Linked DNA regions of Homo sapiens. The protein of the gene in region 1 purifies or fractionates together with the protein of each later gene. This does not show direct contact. Each region holds a gene or a part of one and is shown on either strand. Other genes may lie near its edges. The genes, in order: RIPK2, SLK, CIB2, CAMK4, IGF2BP2, TLR2 and NAT16.

Region 1 (3,500 bases):
CATATAAAAATTAGCTGGGCATGGTGGCGCATGCCTGTAATCCCAGCTACTCGGGGGGTTGAGGCAGGAGAATTGCTTGAACAAGCCAAGATCGCACCACTGCAGTCCACCCTGGGCGACTCCACCTCAAAAAAAAAAACTTTGTTTCAGGTATAAAATTATTTTAAAATATTGAATTAAGTTACCTTCAGGCTGTGTGTATAAGGTGTATATGAAACATAAATGAATTTTATATTTAGACTTGGGTCCCAACCCCAAGATATCTCGTTATATATATACAAATATTCCAAAATCTGAAAAAAATCCAAAATTCCAAACACTTCTGGTTCCAAGCATTTCAGATAAGGGATATTAAACCTGTAGTATCTTTAAAACGAACCTTAAAGCATAGTATATCACATTTTTAATCACTTGATGTACAGTATTTCATTTGATCTTTGAGGCCATTCATGCATATTTTTAGATAGACAGTGCGGATAATAGAGCCAAAAACCTGAGAGCCAGAGAGGTTAAATACCTTATTGAAAGTTAGCTAGTGATTCCATGACAGAGCTAGGAGTAAAATTCTCCATTACTTTTTCCATGTTTTCCTGTGCCTCCATGTGGAAGGAACCTGAGGTGCTGAGAACAGGCATTTCTAAATCTGTAGGAGACCAGACTTGCAGATACCAAATTTCTCATTCACTATTCTAGCTACTGGCTGCAGCATCTGAGATCGTGTAGAAAATACTGAAAAAATAATTATTTCTAATGTTTCATTATTCCCCTATTTCGCCCATTTGTGTTAATTAAGAAAATAAGTTTATCTTTGTTGGTTATTTTATAGATGTATGTGTTTCTTTAATTTTGTAAAGTATAATTTTTAGTAGTTTTGTAGGTTGGGCACAATGGCTCACACCTGTAATTCCAGCACTTTGTGTGGCCAAGGCTGGTGGATCACTTGATCGCAGGAGTTTGAGACCAGCCTGGGCAACGTAGCGAAACCCCATTTCTACGAAAGATACAAAATTTAGCATGGTATGGTGGTGTGCACCTATAATCCCAGCTATTAAGGAGGCTGAGATGGGAGGTTCACCTGAGTTCAGGAGGGTGGGGCTGCAGTGAGCCTAGGTTGTGCCACTGCACTCCAGACTGGGCAACAGAGTGAGACCCTGTCTGAAAAAAAAAAATTAGTAGTTTTTATCTTCATTTGTGATAAGCCACAAACAAGAACTATTTAGAAATTAAAGCTCGATAATTTTTATTAACCTAAACCCTTTATTTTTTATTTACTTTAGGAATCATGTGGATCCTCTCAGCTCCATGAAAATAGTGGTTCTCCTGAAACTTCAAGGTCCCTGCCAGCTCCTCAAGACAATGATTTTTTATCTAGTATGTAGATTTTCCAATCATTATTTACTTGCAAGTTTTCCATTTTCTTTCAAGATCAAATTTTTGCAAGCAGTCATGATTTCTATGGAACTTTAATTTGCATATATAACTCATTTTGTAAAGCGACAGAGTCTAAAGATAGGAAAATAGTAGTGTGATATTCAACAAATACATTTAAGTTTTAAGGCATTATGTTTGGCCAGGCGCAGTGGTTCACACCTATAATCCCAGCATGTTGGGTGGCCAAGGTGGGCAGATCACCTGAGGTCAGGAGTTCGAGACCAGCCTGGCCAACATGGTGAAACCCCATCTCTACTAAAAATACAAAAATTAGCCAGGCATGGTGGTGGGCACCTGTAGTCTCAGCTACTTCGGAGGCTGAGGCGGAAAGATCGCTTGAACCTGGGAGGGAGGTTGCAGTGAGCCGAGATTGCACCACCACACTCCATCCTGGGCGACAGAGTGAGACTCTGTGTCAAAAAATAAATTTTAAAAAACAGGCATTATGTTAGACACTGCCAGAAAATGTCCGCAAAAAAATCTCTTACAAGAAAAAGGAGAAATGTTTCTAAATAACTATTATATGAGATAGTGATATAAGAGAGACGTGGATCTAGAGCTATGGTAGTACAGTGGAAGAGTAACACTGTACAAAGGACTTTCACAACAACCTTGTGAGAGAAATGTCCTCATTTTACACATTTAAGGACTCTGGATCACATAGCTAGTAGCTGGCACATCTAAGACTTTTGATAAATATTATCATGTCACTCTACTCTACCATGTTGTCATCATGAAATTATTTCTGGCTGAAGGCTGGATCTGTAATTACAAAGGATAGGCATTCCAGGCAAAAGGAACAACATACAGGTACAGAAGCAAGAAAATACAGAGAACAGTGAGTAATTTGGTTTAGCTAGTAAAGAAGGTGAATGAAAGAAGTAAGAGCTAAGTAGATTGGAGTCATATCATCAAGAATTCTAACTTTCAGCTGAACTATTTGGACTTTTTTACTTGAGTAGGAAGCAACTATTGCAATTTTTTGAGCAAGGGAGTGACATAAAATTTTTTACTTTGGGGAGATTCATTCTGGCTGGAATGTGTAGGATATTTTGAAAGGAAAAGGAAACTTGAGATGGGGAGATCAGTTAGGAGACTATTACTGTAGTACCCGTGAGAGATTATTAAGAACCGATACAGAATGAAAGAAAGGAGGGGTGGTATGTGAGATGTTATAGACAACTAGATGATAGGACTTTGTAACTTTTCACTTAGAGGAGCGATGAGAGAAAAAAGAGGTAAAGCCAAATAAATTGTTAAGCCTGGGGACTGGGAGAACATTGGTGCCATTAAAAGAAATAGAAGTTAAAACAGGCTGCATGCGGTGGCTCACACCTGTAATCCCAGCATTTTGCAAGGCCAAGGTGGGCAAATCACTTGAGGCCAGGAGTTCAAGACCAGCCTGGCCAACATGCCAAAACCCCATCTCTACTAAAAATACAAAAAAATTAGCGGGTATGGTGGTGCACACCTGTAATCCCAGCTCCTCAGGAGGCTGAGGCACAAGAATCACTTGAACCTGGGAGGCAGGGGTTGCAGTGAGCTGAGATTGCGCCACTGCACTCCATCCTGAGTGACAGAGCAAGATTCTATCTCAATTAAAAAAAAAAAAAGTTAAAACAAGTTTTAGAGTTAAGACGGATAATTATACTTTTAATGTTTTTGTTTTTGTTTTTAATTTGAGGTACTAGGAGCACACAAAGGGTTGATGGCCAGAGGGCTTTTGAAAATATAACACTAAGGTTCATGGCTGAGTGTAGTGGCTCACACCTGTAATCCTAGAACTTTGGGAGGCTGAGACAGGTGGATCACCTGAGGTCACGAGTTCAAGACCAGCCTGGCCAACATGGTGAAATTCCATCTCTACTAAAAATACAGAAATTAGCCAGTTGTGGTAGCATGCAACTGTAATCCCAGCTACTTAAGAGGCTGAGGCAGGAGAATCGCTTGAACCTGAGAGGTGGAGGTTGCAGTGAGCTGAGATCGCAACCATTGCACTCCAGCCTGGGTGGCAAAAGCAAAACTCCATCTAAGAAAGAGAGAGAGACAGAGAGAGAGAGAGAGGGAGG
Region 2 (3,500 bases), on another chromosome or scaffold:
AAGGCACATGGAAAGGGCTCAGTAAATGGTAGAAATTACTGTTATTACATTTAGAGCTCATAGATGCAAACTTTGGGATGAGATAGGGAAAGGAACCAAGAAGATAATAAACCATTTTGTTGGTTTCTAATGGCATGGGCAGACTGTGTGGAGATACTAAAGCCCTGTGTTATTCTTTCATGACACTTTCTGCAAAATGTGATCTATCTTCCTGTACTGAGACATTAATTGAAAAATTTCTGAAGAACAAGAGTCTTATTTCATGTAGTTATTTGAGCACTATAAAATTGTGTCAAGGAGAATTTCTGTGATCTTGATGACTGTATTTTAGTATGATATTTGAAGAGCACGGGCTGGCACTATTTTTTCTTTTTTCATTTCACTACTCTCTGCTTCTAAGGAGTAGGGTATGAGTTTTTTAAAAAATAAAATTTGAAATTAAAACTTATCTGTCTTCTTATGGCCTCTTTTTTCTAAAAGTTTTTGTTTTTCAAGATTCCATAGAAATTGAGGATTTATAAACTTCCTTATATTTGGAAGAAAAAGCTATGGAACCTTAACATAGTACGTAGTAGTATGTAGTAGAAAACTGTTTATAAACTTGATTCTAACTATCATTTGCTTACAGAAATTAGTAACTGTTACAAAGATTATATTGTAAATAGAGATGAGGTTGAGTATCCCATTTCCCAAATGCTTGGGACCAGAAGTGTTTTGGATTTTGGAATTTTTTGGATTTTGGAATATTTGCATTATACTTAGTTATTGAACATCTGAAATTGAAAATGCTCTAGTGATCATTTCCTTTGAACATCATGTCATGTTAGCACTCAGAAAGTTTCAGATTTTGGAGCATTTCAGATTAGATTTTCAGATTTGGGATGTGTAACCTATAGGTAATCATGTTGTGTATTTAGTCTGAGTCATTCTTCCATCGTGTACTTGTTGTATTCCTTCCACTCAGTCCAGCACTGTACACATTTAACAGTTACTTCCTTGCCTGAAAAAGCTTCACTACTTTAAATTTATTTTCTCTTTTAAAAATAGTATTATTTGACATATAAATGAAGATATGTAATATCCTTCACAATATTTTATCTTTGGGTTTCTCTTTTTTTGTTGTTGTTGTTTTGTTTGTGTTTTGTTTTGTTTTGAGATGGAGTCCCTCTCTGTCGCCCAGGCTGCAGTGCTGTGGCGCAATCTCGGCTCACTGCAACCTCCGCCTCCCAGGTTCAAGCAATTCTCCTGCCTCAGCCTCCGGAGTAGTTGGGATTACAGGCACGCACCACCGTGCCGGGCTAATTTTTTGTATTTTTAGTAGAGACGGGGTTTCACCATGTTTGCCAGGGTGGTCTTTCCTGACCTCAGGTGATCCGCCTGCCTTGGCCTCCCAAAGTGTTGGGATTAGAGGCATGAGCCACTGCCCCTCACCCCCTGCTGGATTTCTCTTGTTTTTAACAGAAAAAAAAGAATGACATAAGATTATGAATTGAATTGCATTTCTAGAAAGCTATTTTATCTATTAAACCAGTTGAAACTAAACTCTTGGCTGTGTGCTGGATGAAAGTAGTTTTTATATGACAACTGATGGCTGTGTGCCTTTTAAAAAATAGTAAAATATATAATCTTTGTATTAAAAAGTATGGAAACATATACATTTAGCAGATAATAAAGTGAATTATTATTAACAACTGTCAGTGTCAAGGAATTCTGCTAACATCCGAGAATCCCTCTTGCCTCCTTTCTGTATCTAATATCTTCTCTCTCCCTAAAGGAAACCACTATCCTATCTTTAAGTTATTCATTTATTTGCTTTTCTTAATCATTTACTATCTAGGATTATATCCCTAAATGTTATAAATTTAGTTTTGTATGCACTTGAACTTTATATGAATGGAATCATATTGAACATATTCTTTTGTGTCTTGCCTCTTTCAAAGTCAGTATTGTGTTTGTGAGGTTCATCTTTATCACATAGAGCTGTAGTTCTTTTTCGTTGTAGCATTGTATTCTATTATATGATGATATCACCAATTATTTACTATTGTACAATTAATGGATATATTGGTTGCTTCCAGTTTTTGGCTCTTACACAAAACGGTAGTTGCACATATACATGAGTTTCACTAAGAGTTAATCCAGGAATGGAATTGCTAGGTTATAGGGTAGTGTATCTTTAATTTTACCAGATGATGCCAAACTAATTATACAAGTTTACATTCCCACCAGCAGTTGAAGAATTTCCTTGCCCTGCCAGGCGCGGTGGCTCATGCCTGTATTCCCAGCACTTTGGGAGGCCGAGGCGGGCGGATCACGAAGTCAGGAGATCGAGACCATCCTGGCTAACACGGTGAAACCCCGTCTCTACTAAAAATACAAAAAATTAGCCGGGCGTGGTGGCAGGAGCCTGTAGTCCCAGCTACTCGGGAGGCTGAGGCAGGAGAATGGCGTGAACCCGGGAGGAGGAGCTTGCAGTGAGCCGGGATCGCACCACTGCACTCCAGCCTGGGCGAAAGAGCAAGACTCCGTCTCAAAAAAAAAAAAAAATTTCCTTGCTCTGCATCTTTGCTAACATTTAATATTGTCAGAATTTTAAAGTTTTGACAGGCTGATAATGTGTTACATTTCTCATTGTGCATTTAATTCACCTTTCACAGATTACTAAAAGTAATTCTTTTAATATGTTTTTGGTAATTTGAATTTCTTCTTTTGTGTTCAAGTCTCTTATCCATTTTTCTCTTGAAGTCTTTGTTTGTATGTTGATTGTGTGTGTGTACAATATATGTGTTTTGAATTTTAACCATTTGCTGGTGATAGTTATTGCTAATATAGTCTCATTCTGAGACCTGTCTTTTCATTCTCACTGTAGTGTCTTTTTATGAATTCTTTAACATGGTCCAATTTGTTAGTTTTTTCCTTTACAGTTGATGCTTTTTGTGTTATGTTTAAGACATTTCTTCCTAATGTGTGATCATGAAGATAATCTTCTATATTATCTTCTAAAAGCTTTATGATTTTGCTTTTCTTTAACAATTAGATCTATAATCTACCTAGAATAGATGTTTGTAAATGGTATGAGGTAGGGGTCCAGTTTCATTTTTTTCCCCATATGGATACACAATTGTCCCAGAACTATTTGCTGGGAAGAAAAATAATTCCCCACTGCTCTGCAGTGCCCTGTTATGTAGCATGTGTCTGTTTCTGCATTCTCCGTTCTCTTCATTGATCTATTTGTCTATTCCTATACCAGTATCCCACTGTCTTAATTAGGAAAGAATTAAAATAAATTTCTGCTGCTTCTTCAACATAGTTTAGTAGTATTGTTGGCCCTTAGGGCTTCTATGTACATTTTCCAGTTAGCCTGGTTGAGTGCCACAAAAAATCTGTGTTTTTTTGGAGAGATTTCATTGAATTTATAAATCAGTTTTGGAAAAATTAACCTCTCTTTGATATTGAGTCTTCCCACCTGTGCATGTTTTATCTCTGTTTAGGTCTTTTTT
Region 3 (3,500 bases), on another chromosome or scaffold:
CAGGCCATGGGCTTGTGCTCATTTGCTTGTCCCTTTGTTAAGTGGCCCCAAGCCTGCTGTAGTTGGCAGACCTGTGTCTGCTTTGTTAGATAACTTTTCTGTCTCCCCGTTGTCTGGCTGTGGCTTCTCACTGAGGTCAGCATGGTGGTCATCCATAGCATCATTTCTCAGACTTTAACGTACCTGTTAAAATTTAATTTTAAACTCCCCAGGGATCTTGTCCAAATGCCAATTCAGGCTCAGTACATGTGGAGTAGAGTCAGGATTCTGCTTTTCGAGCAAGTTCCCAGGTGAGACTGATGCTGCTGATCCTCAGACCATATATATCTGAATGTTTCGTTTCATGAGTTCCTTATCCATAATATGTAAAGTGCATTCAGCATTAAGAAGGCATTTGGGGCACAACTCCCCATTGCAGTGGGACTTCGTCAGTAGCCCCTTGCCAGGCCTGGGATGTGTGGCTTGAAGGTGGAGTCAGAGTGCTATATGGCATCCACTTGGGGCCTGCACTCTGGTTGTGACCTCAGTCCTGAGAGACAATGGGCCCCAGGCTCAGCCCTGGACCAGCACCCCGTCTGGCCCAGCAAGGGGCTCAAGAGCAAGCTCAGAGGGTTGCTGGAGCAGGTGAGACACTCATGGGTAGGACCCAAGTGGTCTGTCTCTGAGCCTCCCGCACTGGCCTGGGCTGGGCACGGAATGGCGCTAGCCAAGCGCTAGCTCAGTTGGGATGGAAGGGCTGCAGGATGAGTGATTTGGGGATCTAGGAAGGCATCCGTGTACAGCTCCCTGGGAGAGGCAGCATCCAAGGTGGTCTAGGGGAGAATTCACAGGAGCAGAGTGACAGCAGACCTGGGCCTGAACTGGCTGTATGGCTCTTGCTGCTTGACTGGTCCAGTTATCTGACCCCACATCCACCTCCCACGATCCTGGCCTGACACGGCCTGAGCTGAGGGCCACCAGTGCCCTGGGCTGTCATCTTCTTCTGCTGGGGACAGAGCCCTACACATCCAGGCAGAGCCTCTGTGTGCTCTTCTGGGTAACAGGACGAATCTGTGCTTCTGCTTCTGCTTCAGATGAGGCAGTGCCTCCAGTGATAACACACTGGCTGTGCTCAGCATTTTTTTTTTTTTTTTTTTTTGGAGACATGGTCTTGCTCTGTCGCCCAGGCTGGAGTGCAGTGGGACGATCATGGCTCACTGAAGCCTCAAACTCCTGGGCTCAAGTGATTCCTCCACCTCAGTCTCCCAAATAGCGGGACTACAGGCGTGCACCACTGTCCCTGGCTGTGCCCATCTTAATGATGTGACATGACCCAGTAGAATGCTTCCTGAGCTCTTACATGTGCCGGGCCTGGTACCAACACCTTACATACTTTAGCTCATTTAATCCCATCACAACCCAATTAAGAAGGTGTTATTATTATTCCCTTTTTACAGATGGGGAAACCGAGGCTCAGAGGGATTTGGTCACTCCTCCAGGGTCACACAGGCTGTCCACAGTCTGGCTCCGGGGCCCTCCTGCTTATCCTGCACCCACAGTGATTGCTGTGTGTGTTTTCTTCAGGAGAATCCCTTCAAAGAAAGGATCGTGGCGGCGTTTTCCGAGGATGGTGAGGGGAACCTCACTTTCAACGACTTTGTGGACATGTTTTCCGTGCTCTGCGAGTCGGCTCCCCGAGAGCTCAAGGCAAACTATGCCTTCAAGATCTATGGTAACCAGGGCTAGAGGAGGGGGCCTGAATATGCGGTGGGGGAACATGTGGGGCCCTTAGGCTGTCTGGTTACTACTGGCTCCTGCCCTAGGGACACCAAGAACAGTGAAGCTGATCTGTCCTCTGAAGAGTGCCTGTCCAGTGGGGTGGCCAAGGGAGACGATCAGTCCCTGAGAGACATCTGTGAGGGTCCTGAGAACGAAGGAGGGAGGGACTCACCCATCCCAGGTCGGGTGGTTAGTGTGAGAGGGGTCCCAGGCATGACCTTTAAGCAGGGACTAGCAGAGGCTTGGACTGGAGAAGAGGGGGCTGGCAGACCTGACAGAGGGCGCAGCCCATGCAGACACAGGGAAGCGCAGAGCTTGATAAGGAGATGGGAGGAACTTGGAAGGTGGTGGGACAGGGGGCGGTATGAGTCTGGAGAGAATCTGGGGCCAGGCTGTGGGAGCCAGCCACAGAGTTTGGACCTAGTGATCCAGACACCAGGGCCACTGCAAGGTTTCCAGTGAGGAAGGGCAGCTCTGTTTTCTAGAAGGATCACTCAGCAGCTTTGAGGTGTAAAATGGAGGAGCCAGAGAGGCTGCCTAGGCCATGGTGGTAAGGCCAGGCCTGCAGGGGGGCCTCTGGAGCCCCCCCGAATACTGCCTGAGGTAGGGCCACCTGGATTCACCCCGCCCAGCTCTGCCCTCAGGCTGGCTGTCTCACCAGCCACCAGAGGGCGGCGGGCACTCATGAGCCAAGGACTCATGCTTCTCCCACAGCCACAGGGAGAAAACTTCATACCCACGAGCTCACCCCCTCTGCTGGCCTGACAGACCCATGGGGACTGGTGTCAAATCCTCAGATAGACCTCAGTTGAGATGCCTAAGGCCTAGGAAGGGGCTGGGACCCAACTTGGACCTGAAGAGTCAAGGTCAAAGCTCCTGTCCTCAGCACGTTTGATCAGACACTGGATCCCAAAGGCAGCAGGGCCTATCAGGGGCTGACATTTTGCTTTCTTTTTTCTTTTCTTTTCTTTTTTTTTTTTTTTTTTGAGACAGAGTCCCACTGTCGCCCAGGCTGGAGTGCAATCGTGTGATCTCGGCTCACTGCAACCTCTGCCTCCCGGGTTCAAGCGATTCTCTTGCCTCAGCCTCCCAAGTTCAAACGATTCTCCTGCCTCAGCCTCCTGAGTAGCTGAGATTACAGGTGCCCGCCACTACACCTGGCTAATTTTTGTAATTTTAGTAGAGATGGGGTTTCACCATGTTGGTCAGGCTGGTCTCGAACTCCCGACCTCAGGTGATCTGCCTGCCTTGGCCTCCCAAAGTGCTGTGATTACAGGTGTGAGCCACCACGCCCAGACTGACGTTTCACTTTCTAGTTATCATGTTTATTTCAGAGGACTTTGGTTTCTGTCTGTGCACCCACGTTTTGCTTGCATATTAGAAAGAAAATACCTGCCAGTCTGCCCTCCACAAACTATGCCCACATGGCTCATGTAAAAAGCTTCTCAGATTCCACCCAACATCCGCCCGGTCTTGGACCCCATAGCATTGCTCCTGGGACGGGCTGCTGTCTGCCCAAGACAGGGGCGTGCAGATCGCATGGACCGGGTGGGCACAGGAATACATGGAAGAACTGTGGCTTCCTTGCTGCTCTAGGCTGGGGGTGGAGTGGGGAGAGGCAGCCAGGGCCCTCCTAGTCTGGCGCTGGGGAGGCCTGGGGCCTCATTTGCAACAATGATCATCTCACTTCTGAGCCTCAGTTTACTCAGGTTAAATGGCCACAGGAATTCAGCCAGCCAGCC
Region 4 (3,500 bases), on another chromosome or scaffold:
CCTTCTGGGGAGGTCACTCACCTCTTATAAAATAAAGAGGATGCTAACATGAGATTGAAACATTTCTCATCAATCCACTAGAGAACAACCACACAGACATAATCAAAAGCTGACTTTTGAATCATAGAAGGTTAGATATAGAAGAGGTCTTAGGAGGCATCTAGTCCTCCTCTCATTTTAAAGATGAGAATGCTAAAGACCAGAGAGGTGAAATGACTGCTAAGGTCACACAGCTTCCCAGCAGAAAGACATTATTAGGGCTGATCCAGTCGTCCAGACTCCCTTTCCTGTGCTCTTTTTTCTTCAAGCATTTCTTCCTTACCCTCTGTGTTCCTTCATGGAACAGATTCCCTAAGGCTCATGGCTTTTCCAGCATGAGTGGGAAGAGAAAGTCAGTGTGTGTGATGTGTGATGTATAAATATGTCATTGCAACTCCTTCCTCAAGTCATACCCCATGCTCCTAAACACCTCTTGAATCCATCCAGTTCTCTCCCCCGGACCACTGCCCCAACCTCCTATCTGACCTCCCTGCCTCTTCTCATGCCTTTCTCAAATACAGTCTGTACAGGATCCAGAGGGATGGTCTTATAAATAAATCGCATCATGTCCTTGTCCTGCTTTAAGAATCTTAGGATAAAATCCAAAACCCATAACAAGATCTACATGACGCTGCCTGGTCTGGGGCCTGCCACTCTCTCCTGTGCCATCACTCACTTCACATCTCTCCCCTTTGATCACTTTTCACTCTAGTGCACCACACTTCTAGTTTCTCATCAGCATAGCTCAGGATATTGCCATGGCTCTTCTGCTCTGTAATGTTCTTTCTTCCTCCCCACCTTCTTCTCCATTACACATAGGCATGTAAACACACACACACACACACACACACACACACACACACACACCCCTGGGTAACTCTTATTCTCAAGCCCCAGCTGCCACTAGATATCCCTTGGGAGGCATGGTCGGCCTTCCCCTTCAGTCCCTCCCACCTATAGTTGGTTCCTTCTGCCAAAATCTTCCTTTACCCCCTGCACTCCCCAGTTCATAACAGTCATCACTTATATATTTAATGGTCCTCCTTAATTAGATTTTAAGCTCTGGGGCAGGACAAAGCGTGTGTACCCAGACCTTAGAACCACATAGGCATATAGGACTGACTCAGTAAATGTTTATTGGATGAAACAATGGATCTGGAAGTACACCGTGAAGTTTCAGAGTCTGACACACCTGGATTTAAGTGCCCCCTTTGTCATGTCCTGGAAGTGTAACCTCAGGCTCATGATCTAACCTTGCTATGCTTTAGTTTTCTCATCTAGGATGATAATTGTACCTATCTCTAGGTCGTTGTGAGAATTAAGGAACATAATATATGTTAAGTAACTAATATCAACTAACTTAATAATAGTAATCTTATTTAGCCCTCCTTCCATTTCTTTTCACCCTTAATAAATATTAAGTGAATAAGAGGGTTAGCTTTGATGTTCCTTCATTCAGCTAGATCCCTTGTTAGTTTATCACTGCTTAAAACTTCAGAACTGGAAGAATCCTTGAGCTCCATAAATGTATACTTACTAGCAAAACCCACATCTGTTGTGTCATCGGCAGAGACTAAGTGCTAAGGAGTTGGGGAATTGGATGTAAGGGGTACTGCAGGGTAATGGCAAGGCTTTGAGTGTGATTATAACCTTCAGAAAGTTTCCTAATAATTCAGTTAGGATTGTTATCAATATCTTCAAATGTAAAGATTAACAATGGTGTATATAAATTTTTGGTGCACATTGACTTTCAATAAATTCTTTGTATTTTTGTGAGGAAGATAGTAATGAGGAGGGAGAGGAGAAAAATGATTGGAAAAGAAAAAGAAAATACCTAATTGTCAAAAATGTTGTAAGGATTAGGGCTCATTTACATAAAATTATTAGTAGTCCTGTTCAACGGATAATAGCCATGACTACTATCAGATTTTTATTTACTACCATGCCTTCTTTCTCTTAACCATCCTACCTTCCTCCATGTCCTCTCAGATTTTAAGCCTAAAGAGCCTCATGTCTCTGCCCACTACAAATCTAGCCCAAACACACATTCTTTTGCAGAAAGGAAGTGAAGAGAGAACCAGATAGTATTTATTCCTCATTTGACTTGCCGCCTGATTTCCTTAGCCTATGTTCACGTCTCCTTAGGTAATTAGAGTTAGAAAAGACCTGAGACCTACAATCATTCAAAGCTCCTTATTTTGCACATGAGCAGGCCAAGGTACAGGGAGATTGACCACCTTGGAGACATCATGCTGTAGTGGCCACAAGATGCGCTCTGACATACACAGACCTGAGTCTAAATACAGGCTCCATCAATTCCAAATTGTCTGACCTGAGGCAAGTCACTAAATCTTTCTGAGCTACCCTGCTTCCCTCATTTATGAATTGGCACTAGTAGTTCCAAATGATAAGGCTGCTAAAAGATTACATGAGTTTTTAAAAAGTTATATATGCATCTAAGAAGCAATTACAAAGGAATTAAAGTGGAAATAAGATTCTGTAAGGAAAGAGCCTGAGGGGGTGTCCACAGGCAATTTATATATTTGTCTATATCTAGGGTCACAAAAGTGGCGAGTGGCATAACCAGGGCTTGAACACACTTCCTGACTCCCAATAGTCTCTGCCTCATATCAGGTCACCCCTACTAAGCCCAGGACTGTGGATTATTTTATTTGCTGACCTTCCTGGGAATTTATTGACTGCCCATCCTCACAAGCAGGGGTAAACCTCCAAGAATGGGCTGCCATTGATTGGATTCCATTCTTTAGGCAAATCATGCCCTCAAGCCACTGACTTCTTGGATTATAAAATGATTTTTAAACTCTGGGCTTAGTCCTTCAAGTACCCTCAAGGGGTTAGAAAGAACTATAAACCCCAAGATAGAAACATAAGGTAGTATTCCATAAGTTCTGGGATACTCTCCCTTTTGTTTGCCATTTAATCCCCACAGAAAGAATGATGATGCATGAATGATTCCATTCTGTTACCATAGAGATGTACTTTAAGTTCTGAATTCTAGGTGATTGTGAAGCGCAGCCCAGAATTATTTTGCTGGTTCTGCCTTCAAAGAACTTCCAGTCCACAGGCAAGTGAGGAGCTGTTTCTTGACTTCTGTTGGAAAGCCGTCTGCCACTTTGGGGGTCTCAGGTGGTACATGGCCCTGTCTTCTCATACTCCCTCAGCTACTGCTACCTGAAGCTGTGCCTACCTACAGTGGCCCCTGAGGACTTAAACAATTTTTTTCTCACATATATTTAGTGGTACTGCTGGGAAATGGAATAAGATCTGGAAGTTTGTAAGCTGAGGGCAAGCCCAGGTCATCCTAAAAACCTCGCTAAGTTTATGGTTCTTTATTATTTCAGGTCAGAAAATTAATTGTTTTGGATCCAAAGAAACGGCTGACTACATTTCAAGCTCTCCAGCATCCGTGGGTCACAGGTAAAGCAGCCAATTTTGTACAC
Region 5 (2,207 bases), on another chromosome or scaffold:
GTCAGCAGCCATCAACATTGAGGCAAAACTCTTCACTAGCCAAGAGTACAACTTGCCTAAGGCTCGGATGATCGTTAGCATTCTTTAGCAATAAATTATTTTTAATTAAGATATGTACACTGTTGGGCCGGGCACAGTGGCTCACGCCTGTAATCCCAGCCCTTTGGGAGGCTGAGGCAAGCAGATCACGGGGTCAGGAGATTGAGACCGTCCTGGCTAACACAGTGAAGCCCCGTCTCTAGTAAAAATACAAAAAATGGCCATGTGGGGTGGCACATGCCTGTAGTCCCAACTACTCGGGAGACTGAGGCAGGAGAATTGCTTGAATACACGAGGCAGAGGTTGCAGTGAGCTGAGATCGTGCCACTGCACTCCAGCCTGGGCGACAGAGCGAGACTCTGTGTCAAAAAAAAAAAAACAAAAAAAACCCACTGTTTTAGACATAATGCTATTGTACACTTAATACAGTGTAAACATAACTCACATGCAGTGAGACACTAAAACGTGTATGACTCATTTTATTGCAAAGTTCGCTTTACTGTGGTGGTCTGGAACTGAACCTGCGACGTTCCTGAGGTATGCCTGCACTTACTAGTGAGCTTCCCGTGGAGGCGTGAAGTGCCTCTTCCCGGAACTGCCGGGCATATTATCCTCCCCCTTTCCTCCACTTAAAAAGCAGCTTTGCCTGGCCAGGCTTGCAGTTCCTTAAGGATAGACTGGTCTTCTCTAGCTTGACATGCAGTCGATCCATCCCTCTAGCTCCGAGGTTCGGAAACTTCAGTGCGCACAGCAATCACCCAGAGGCCTTGCTGAAAAGGTTGCTGGGCCTCACCCCCAGGATTTCTGATTCAAGGTGGACCCCAAGAATCTACATTTCTAACAAGTTCCCAGATGATAGCTGATGCTGCTGGTCTGGGGACTACACTTTGACCACCGATCTAGTTTAGCTTCTCCCAAAGACTTTCCTGGGCAAAACCAGCTTTCTCAGAGTAGCTGTGTGGATCCAGGTCACACCTACCGCCTGTCTGCCCAGGTCCCTCAGAGCTAGGACTCAGCTGACACCTGGGATGAGGCAATGCCTAGTAAAATAAAACACCAAGACACCAGGATCTTGTTAGCTGGATATATTTCTGTTTTTTCTTTTTTTTTCTTTTTTTTTTTTTTTTTTTTGTCACAGAACACTGTTTGCAGTAGAGGAAACTGGCATTGCAGTCTGGTGGTATAATGGCTTGTCCACATAAACCAGTACATGTTCATCCTTTAGCGCAAAAAGCCCTAATGGCGCGTACCCTATTAAAATTCAGGACATCTCCAATATTCTCTCTCTCTGTTTTTCTTTGTCATCTTTTTTTTTTTTAAATAAACATTTTCAAGGTTTGTCCAAAAGAAGGCCATATAGGTTCTTGGCTAGCGGAAGACAATTCAGAACAGCTGTTGCACACTTGGACTGTCACCTTCTCCAGGCTGGCAGTTGATATCTTATTTTTTTTCCAACTCATTTTTATTAAAAAAATAAAAAAATGCTCCAACTATCAGCTTTACAAAATCTCTAAGGGAAACACAAGAGCAAGGTGCTGAGGTAAAAACACCTGAGGTAGCTTCTTCTGTGTGTTTTTCTCGTTAAAAAAATCTGTGAATTTAACGCCCTGGGCCAACAACCTTGGTAAATTTCTACTTTCCTCCACATTTTTTTTTTTTAAAGAAAGGAATCATTTTGCTGAATATTGATGGCTTATACACCAAAATGCAAAAAGACAAAATACATTCTTTCATTGTGGAATTTTTTCTTTGTTTGGTTGATTGGTTGGTTTGGTGGGTTCCTGTTTTCCTCTTCCAAAACGCTAGGACAAGTACCATTGACTCTTGTTCTTTTGAGTAACCAAGTGTAAGTTGAGGCTGGTTTGTGTGTTTCGCTTTTGTTCCTTTTGTGTGATGTGATACTCAGAGCACTGCTTTGCCTGGGGGGGGGGGGGTGCGTAGATACGGGATTGAGATGGAGGGATGAGGAAATTCAAAAGAATGGAGATGGAGAAGAAGGGGAGGGGAGGGAGGGGAGAGATAAACAGAGAGAGACAGAGAATTATATAGCAGTATGCAAAAAACCAGTTTAAAACCTGTGAAGCAAAGAGAAATGGGTGTATGAGCTAGACAGGCATGAGGAGTGACAGAGTTTCCTCTTCAAGGAGACGGTATCCCTTCTGTTGACA
Region 6 (3,500 bases), on another chromosome or scaffold:
TAAAATAAATCCAGAGAAATCAGAACAGGGGAAATAATAATATAAGAATAGAAATTAATGTGCTAGAAAATAGGGGATCTATCAAGTCAGAAGTTGATTTTTTGAAAATGCTAATAAAAATGATGAACCTCTGGCAAGACAATAAAAGCTGGTACAAATAACTCATCTAAGGAATAAAATTGAGGACCTCTCTTTTGTTAAATGACATAAGCAGGAGGCCATTATCCTGAGACTGTCTCTACACTTTGAGTTCTTACATAATAAACTGCAACCTAATTTAGTATACTACATAAACAAACTGAAACCTAACTTAGGAGCTTTTTTTTTGTAATTAATAGCTAAATTTCCACCAAATCATAAATAGCCAAGCTTTAGCCAATCACAGGCAGCCAACTGATCAGACTATGCCCAAACAAGGTAAATGCCTATTACACCATACCCAAATAAGGCAGACTCCTAGCTGAAGCCAATCAGGTGATTACTATGCTCTTGTGTTTGGCCTATAAAAGCTCACTGCTCACACTGTTGGATGCTCTCTGAAACTTTTGTGAATCTGAGTGCTGCCTGATTCATGAATCATTCTTTGCTAAAATAAACTCTGTCAAATTTAATTTGTCTGAAGTTTCTCTTTTAACAGTGTTTGGTGTTGCAAGCAGGATCCAAAGGAGACCTATAGTGACTCCCAGGAGCTCTTAGTGACCAAGTGAAGGTACCTGTGGGGCTCATTGTGCCCATTGCTCTTTCACTGCTTTCAACTGGTAGTTGTGGGTAAGTTCCTGCTCAGACTTGAGCACTATACATTTGCATTTTCAGCTCTCTGACTTTATTTGAGCAATTCTTTGATGGATTGGCTCCAGAATTGGATTGGATTCAGTGAAGAAACTGAAACTGGACTGGTGCTCTAGGAGGCCTCAAGTAGATAAGGTTACTAGAAGACAGGGAATCCTGGGCTTATCTGGATTTAAGGAGTCTACAACTCCATCTGCAACTCCAGCCGATTTCATTTATAAGAATTATGGACCAAGAACCTGTGCTTTTCTAGAGAAATGTGTGAGCCTTACTAAAGGTAACTTAGAATTACAATGGACTGCTGAGACCAGCTCGGTCGTGGAGACCCTAACCCAGCAGCGCTAGAGGAATCAAAGACACACACACAGAAATGTAGAGTGTGGAGTGGGAAATCAGGGGACTCACAGCCTTCAGAGCTGAGAGCCCCTAACAGAGATTTACCCACATATTTACTGACAGCAAGCCAGTGATAAGCATTATCGCTATAGATTATAGATTAACTAAAAGTATTCCTTACAGGAAACAAAGGGATGGGCCGAAACAAAGGGATAGGCTCTGGCTAGATGTCTGCAGCAGGAACACGTCCTTAAGGCACAGATTGCTCATGCTATTGTTGTGGCTTAGGAACACGTTAAGCGGTTTTCTGCCCTGGGTGGGCCAGGTGTTCCTTGCCCTCATTCCAGTAAACCCACAACCTTCAGCGTGGGCGTCATGGCTGTCACAAACATGTCACAGTGCTGCAGAGATTTTGTTTATGGCCAAATCTGGGGCTAGTTTATGGCCAGGTTTGGGAGCCTGTTCCCACATGTCCCCCTTTTTTGTTTTGCAAAGCAATAAAAGCAAAGGCAGCTTTGTCACAGTGAGCTACTTCTTGCAGGAGTCGGGATTCGCATATGCATACTATACAAAGACAAACAACACAGATTAAAAGCACAACCATCATTGAAATCACAGAGCTTCCAAGTGTCTTTATCTATTTTAATGGGTTAATCACTGCTAATCTGTCTGCAGCTCCTTCAAGCACTCCAGTTCCTGGCATTAAGGTCTGGTGTGCCTGGAATGCTTTAAATATTTGTTCTTTTAATATTGCAATATGGAAAGACAAGTTTGTAGAGTGTCTTCTAGGTGCTTTTTTATTCTTTCCTGAATTTGGTCTTATTTAAGAGCCATTAATAGTTTCCACAAATCCTTATGTTTAGCTCCTACAGCGGGCCATATCATTTGAGGGTGAGGTGCCACTATACCATCATGTTTCCAGATAATAGGAACTCTTGCCATATTTCTTGCTATTTCTACCATCTGACCATTTTGTTTAGACCAGCTAAACATAGTGTGGCCATGGCACGCAGACTGAGAGGTGCAATTTAAGCTAAACATCCCCTTAGGGGACCAATCAATAATGATTCCATAGGAATCACTGCGCAGCACCTCTGCCTATTCTGCAATGCAATCTTCCCAAACAAGTATGTTCATTATTTCTGGCCAGGTCCAATTCTGTTTACAAATAGGTTTTTGAGGGCAATATGCCTCAATTATAGAAACAGATTTATTATGGTAAATACTGAGATCAGAAAGCATGTGTAACTGTGTCATAGAATGATTACATCCAGGCATTATTGCCAGCCAAGATTGATAAATATGCCCAATAAGTATAATTGTTCTCTGTGTTAGCCCTTGTTGAAGGAATACTAATGGCAATGGTGATCACTGCTATCATAGCTATCATTAAATTACTCATTGTGACTGGTTGTCCCACTTTCCTCAGGTTTTCTTCCACCCTCTATGGCAGTTTCTTGATCTGTCCCCAGGTAGATGGCTGTGTTTGATGGTTGTTGCTCGTGATAGTTTGGGTCCTCCTCAGCATCAGTCTCGACATGGCTGCAACCAGAGGGTCCTCGGGATCCTCCCAGAATCTCTTCCTTGGCATCTGGCTCATGATAAGGTTTCAGGTGTCTTGATGGTATCCAAATCAGCTATTGATTCTGGCCTGGAGAAACACAAGCATAACCTCTACCCCAAGTTATTATTTTACCTATTTCCCAACTTTTTGTTGTCAGATCTCTGCACCAAGCCAGTTGTTCTGCTTCTGTTTTTGCAGCTGGTTTCTGTAGATGCTCTTCAGCTGCTGATAGCATCTGGCCTTTAGGCAGGCTCAAAAAATTTAAAGTCATTAATGCTAGATTCAGTTGTATATGGGGTGTCCTGTAATCCCTGTTTCCCCTTTTTGCTTTTGCAACTGCTGTTTCAGGGAGAGATTCATTCTTTCTACAATGGTTTGTCCTTGAGAATTATATGGGATGCCAGTAATGTGTTTAATATTCCATATAGAGAAAAATGTAGCTAGAGCTTGGCTAGTATAGCCTGGGGCATTATCTGTTTTAACAGAAGTTGGAATTCCTATCACCACAAAACACTGCAAAAGGTGATGCTTAACACATGCAGTCTCCTGATTGGCATGTAGCCCAGACAAAGTGAGAAAAGGTGTCCACACATACATGTACATAAGCTAGTCTCCCAAACGAGGGAACGTGTGACATCCATTTGCTAAAGATAATTAGGTTCCAATCCTCGAGGATTAACTCCTCCTGTTAAAGATGAGGAATGCACCATTTGGCAAGTTGGGCATCACTGGATAATAGCTTTAGCTTCTTTCCAGGTACTGTTATATCTGCATTTGAGACCAGAGGCATTAACATGGGTTAAATTGTGAA
Region 7 (3,500 bases), on another chromosome or scaffold:
GAAGCCAAGGAAACTTAACTTTTAGCCTGGCTCTGCCCAGACTGAGTCACCTCGGGCAAGGCTCTTAATCTCCTTGATTATGAAATGAATGGGTTGAACCTGATGGTCTCTAATGGCCCCAGCAGAGGATCTAAATCCTCTGAGCCTGGCTTCCTCCTCTCTGATAATTCTGGCTCCATATCCAGGTAATCTCCAGGTGTTGGAATCAGATGAGAAAGAATCAGAAAACAAAGAGGGAGATAGAACTCTTGTCTTGAAGCTTGGTTTGTATAGCAAGCATACCGCGTTTAGGCAAGCTCTGTTTATGGCTTGGAAGTGCAAACCACTCCTTGGTCCCACTGCTGGTCAACCTTCCCCAAACCTAGGTAAGACTTTTGTTAAAAAAAAAAATAAAAATTCCAGTTAAGTCAATAAGTCAATATCACCCCCACAGAATAGCTGGTCTGTGTGCCCTTGGGATGTTGGTTAATGAGGCTTAACGTAGGTTATCTGAGGTGAGCATTATCATTGGCTGAAAGAGAGAGGGGGGATTTGATTGGTTGATTTGGCTGATCTGGAAGAGACAGGCCCAGAAATAGAAGTTGCTGGGACTTGGATAGGGGGCTTTCTCTTTCATTTTGGTGGAGCTCCGACAGAACACTTTTCAAACAATTCCTAGTCCTGGAGTGGACAGAGCCCAAGTCTCCCTATGGGGAAGAGGGGCAGAAGGAAGGAAAGGGGCGGGGGCGGGGGGCATTGATTGGCTTAGAAAGAATGGTTTGACATTTTCTTCTTCTTTTTTTTTTTTTTTCTTGAGACAGAGTCTCACTCTGTTGCCCAGGCTGGAGTGCAGTGGCTCAACCTCGGCTCAGGCTCACTACAACCTCTACCTCCCGGGTTCAAGTGACTTTTGTGCCTCAGCCTCCCTAGTAGCTGGGATTACAGGTGTCCACCACCATGCTTGGCTAATTTTTGTATTTTTGGTAGAGATGGGGTTTCATCACGCTGGCCAGGCTGGTCTCGAACTCCTGACCTCAGGTGATCTACCCGCCTCGGCTGAGCCGCCATGCTAGGCTGGCTTGACATTTTCTAGTGGAGCTATCTATCTTGTTTATATTTGAATGTGTATGTCAAGAGGTGGAGGTGGGGGGACAGGGAACTGGGGCAGCAATATGGAGGATATTTGGGGTCTACACCCTCCCCCTTGGCCCTGGCTGGGATTGTAGCTGGTAGTGGCAGGAAATGGGGTGAGGGTGAGCCCTCCACTGTTCTCTGGGAACTTTCTTGTGGACAGAGGGGTGACAGTGGGAGTTTCTTTCTCATGTTGTCCTTGCAGAGGTCTTAGAGAGGTGATGGGATCCTTGAAGGAGTGTGCCTCTTTTTTTTTTTTTTTGACACAGGTTCTCTCTCTGTCACACAGGCTGGAGTGCGGTGGTGTGATCCCGGCTCACTGCAACCTTTGTCTCCTTGGCTCAAACGATCCTCCCACTTCAGCCTCAGAGCAGCTGGGACTACAGGCCCACTGCACCACCATGCCTGGCTAATTTTTTTTATAGACAGAGTCTCACTATATTGCCCAGGCTGTTCTTAAACTCCATGACTCAACCAGTCCACCTGCCTTGGCCTCCCAAAGTGCTGGGAGTACAGGCATGAGTTTCCGTGTCCAGCCTTCTTCTTCTTTTTTTTTTTTAAAACTACCCCCAAGTGCCTTTTTTCTTTTGCCTGGGTCCCTGGATCTGGGGCTGGTCTATGGGGATCTCACAGGGTTCTAAGTTTCTGACTGTTAGGGAGCATCCCATAAGAGTGGGGTGGGTAGAGCTGAGATTTCTGAAAGCTGGTGGGAAGAGGGAGGGAGCTGGGAGACCTCCACTCCCAGGGTCTGTGTGGACAGCAGAAAAGAAAGGGTGTGGGCCAGGTAGAGTGGCTCACACCTGTAATCCCAGCACTTTGGGAGTCCAAGGTAGGAGGATCTCGAACCCAGGAGTTCGAGACCAGCCTGGGCAAAGTAGTGAGATCCCTATCTGTATTAAAAAAAAAATAAGAAGAAGAAATGAAGAAAGGGGCCAATGTGGTGGCTCACACCTGTAATCCCAGCACTTTGGGAAGCTGAGGTAGGAGGATCGCCTGAAGTCAGGAATTCAAGATCAGCCTGGACAACATGGTGAAGCTCCGTCTCTACTAAAAATACAAAAATTAGCCAGGCATGGTGGCACGTACCTGTAGTCCCAGCAACTCAGGAGGTGAAGGCAGGAGAATAGTTTGAAGCGGGGAGGCAGAGGTTGCAGCGAGCCGAGATCGCGCCACTGCACTCCAGCCTGGGCGGCAGAACGAGACTCCGTCTCAAAAAATAAATAAATAAATAAGTAAATAAGTAAATAAATAAAAGAAAAGAAAAAGAAAGGCTATTTGTGTAGGAAGGGGCATTAGGACCGTTTGTGTGCAGGGGCCCAGATGTGGAAACAAAGGGGCTGATCCAGGTGCTGAATTCTCTTTTTTTCTGCAGGGTCATGAAGCTGGAAGCCAGCTGTGGCACAGCCACCTCAGAGGTCCCTAAGCCGGAAAAGAAGACTGCCCGAGATGCAGAGCCAAGCTCTGAAACCCGGCCACAGGAGGTGGAGGCCGAGCCCAGGTCGGGATCGGGGCCTGAGGCTGAGGCCGAGCCATTGGACTTCGTGGTGGCCACGGAACGGGAGTTTGAGGAAGTGCTGGCCATCTCGGGGGGCATCTACGGCGGCCTGGACTACCTTCCTAGCCGCTACCACAGCTGGCTCCGGGACCCCGACCGCACGGTGGTGCTGGCCAAGCGCAACGGAGGCGTGGTGAGCCCGGGGGCACGGCCCAGGTGACATGGGGTGAAGCCACCTGCGGGTGCGTGGATCTTAGGAAGAGGAGGATGAGAGCTTCTCCCCAGCCTTCCTCTGGAGGCTGCGGAAATAGAGCCTGCTTTGGGACCAAAGTGCAGGGCGTGCAGTGCGGATCCAGGGGCTATGTCAGTGAGGGTGGGGTGGAGGACTCCTAAAGCAGAGGAACCAGAGGGACAGGTGAGCGTTTGAAAGTTCGAGGATCCACCGGAGGAATTTCTGGGGGTAAAAGCAAAGGAGGTGGGGAGCAGGAGAGAGAGGGTAGGCTAGGGGTGGGAGCAGGAAGAGCTTAGATTTGGGCTGGGGGAGGAGCTAAGAGGAAGTGGGGCGTGGCAAACTCCCGGGGGAGGAGCCAAGGAAGGGGCGTGGTGAGCGGTCCGGAACTTGACACACTCGGAGCTGGAGCATCTCAAGAGGTGGAAGGGGCCGGGCGCGTCGGCTAACTCCTGTAACCCCAGCTCTTTGGGAGGCCGAGGCAGGAGGATCACTTGAGGCTAGGAGTTCCAGACCAGCCTGGGCAACATGCGAGACCCCTGTCTCCAAAAAATAAAAATAAATAAAAAGCCGAGAGTAGGGGTGCGTGCCTGTTGTCCCAGCTACTAGGAAGTCTTGGGGGTGTAGGGGATCGCTTGAGCCCAGGAGTTTGAGGCTGCAGTGAGC

What was found.
Region 2: the proteins of RIPK2 (region 1) and SLK purify together in Homo sapiens (affinity purification with mass spectrometry; one large-scale study listed by BioGRID and IntAct). This does not show direct contact.
Region 3: the proteins of RIPK2 (region 1) and CIB2 purify together in Homo sapiens (co-immunoprecipitation; one large-scale study listed by IntAct). This does not show direct contact.
Region 4: the proteins of RIPK2 (region 1) and CAMK4 purify together in Homo sapiens (affinity purification with mass spectrometry; one large-scale study listed by BioGRID and IntAct). This does not show direct contact.
Region 5: the proteins of RIPK2 (region 1) and IGF2BP2 purify together in Homo sapiens (affinity purification with mass spectrometry; one large-scale study listed by BioGRID and IntAct). This does not show direct contact.
Region 6: the proteins of RIPK2 (region 1) and TLR2 purify together in Homo sapiens (affinity purification with western blotting; one study listed by BioGRID). This does not show direct contact.
Region 7: the proteins of RIPK2 (region 1) and NAT16 purify together in Homo sapiens (affinity purification with western blotting, with the first as the bait; one study listed by BioGRID). This does not show direct contact.

The regions. Positions count from the first base shown.
Region 1 is NC_000008.11:89,785,316-89,788,815, forward strand, and holds part of RIPK2 (receptor-interacting serine/threonine-protein kinase 2), read left to right. Parts: intron 1-1,277; coding exon 1,278-1,371; intron 1,372-3,500.
Region 2 is NC_000010.11:103,970,140-103,973,639, forward strand, and holds part of SLK (STE20-like serine/threonine-protein kinase), read left to right. Parts: intron 1-3,500. UniProt on the Homo sapiens protein: Mediates apoptosis and actin stress fiber dissolution.
Region 3 is NC_000015.10:78,107,446-78,110,945, reverse strand, and holds part of CIB2 (calcium and integrin-binding family member 2), read left to right. Parts: intron 1-1,436; coding exon of another isoform or gene 1,437-1,563; coding exon 1,564-1,711; intron 1,712-3,500. UniProt on the Homo sapiens protein: Calcium- and integrin-binding protein that plays a role in intracellular calcium homeostasis. Acts as an auxiliary subunit of the sensory mechanoelectrical transduction (MET) channel in hair cells.
Region 4 is NC_000005.10:111,479,384-111,482,883, forward strand, and holds part of CAMK4 (calcium/calmodulin-dependent protein kinase type IV), read left to right. Parts: intron 1-3,401; coding exon 3,402-3,500. UniProt on the Homo sapiens protein: Calcium/calmodulin-dependent protein kinase that operates in the calcium-triggered CaMKK-CaMK4 signaling cascade and regulates, mainly by phosphorylation, the activity of several transcription activators, such as CREB1, MEF2D, JUN and RORA, which play pivotal roles in immune response, inflammation, and memory consolidation.
Region 5 is NC_000003.12:185,642,630-185,644,836, forward strand, and holds the end of IGF2BP2 (insulin-like growth factor 2 mRNA-binding protein 2), read right to left. Parts: 3' UTR 501-2,207; downstream 1-500.
Region 6 is NC_000004.12:153,687,280-153,690,779, forward strand, and holds part of TLR2 (toll-like receptor 2 precursor), read left to right. Parts: exon of another isoform or gene 1-622; 5' UTR 623-768; intron 769-774; exon of another isoform or gene 775-1,066; intron 1,067-3,500. UniProt on the Homo sapiens protein: Cooperates with LY96 to mediate the innate immune response to bacterial lipoproteins and other microbial cell wall components. Cooperates with TLR1 or TLR6 to mediate the innate immune response to bacterial lipoproteins or lipopeptides.
Region 7 is NC_000007.14:101,173,794-101,177,293, reverse strand, and holds part of NAT16 (probable N-acetyltransferase 16), read left to right. Parts: intron 1-2,482; 5' UTR 2,483-2,486; coding exon 2,487-2,798; intron 2,799-3,500. UniProt on the Homo sapiens protein: Probable N-acetyltransferase. Shows only trace activity toward L-His and no N-acetyltransferase activity toward other amino acids. The physiological substrate of this enzyme is unknown.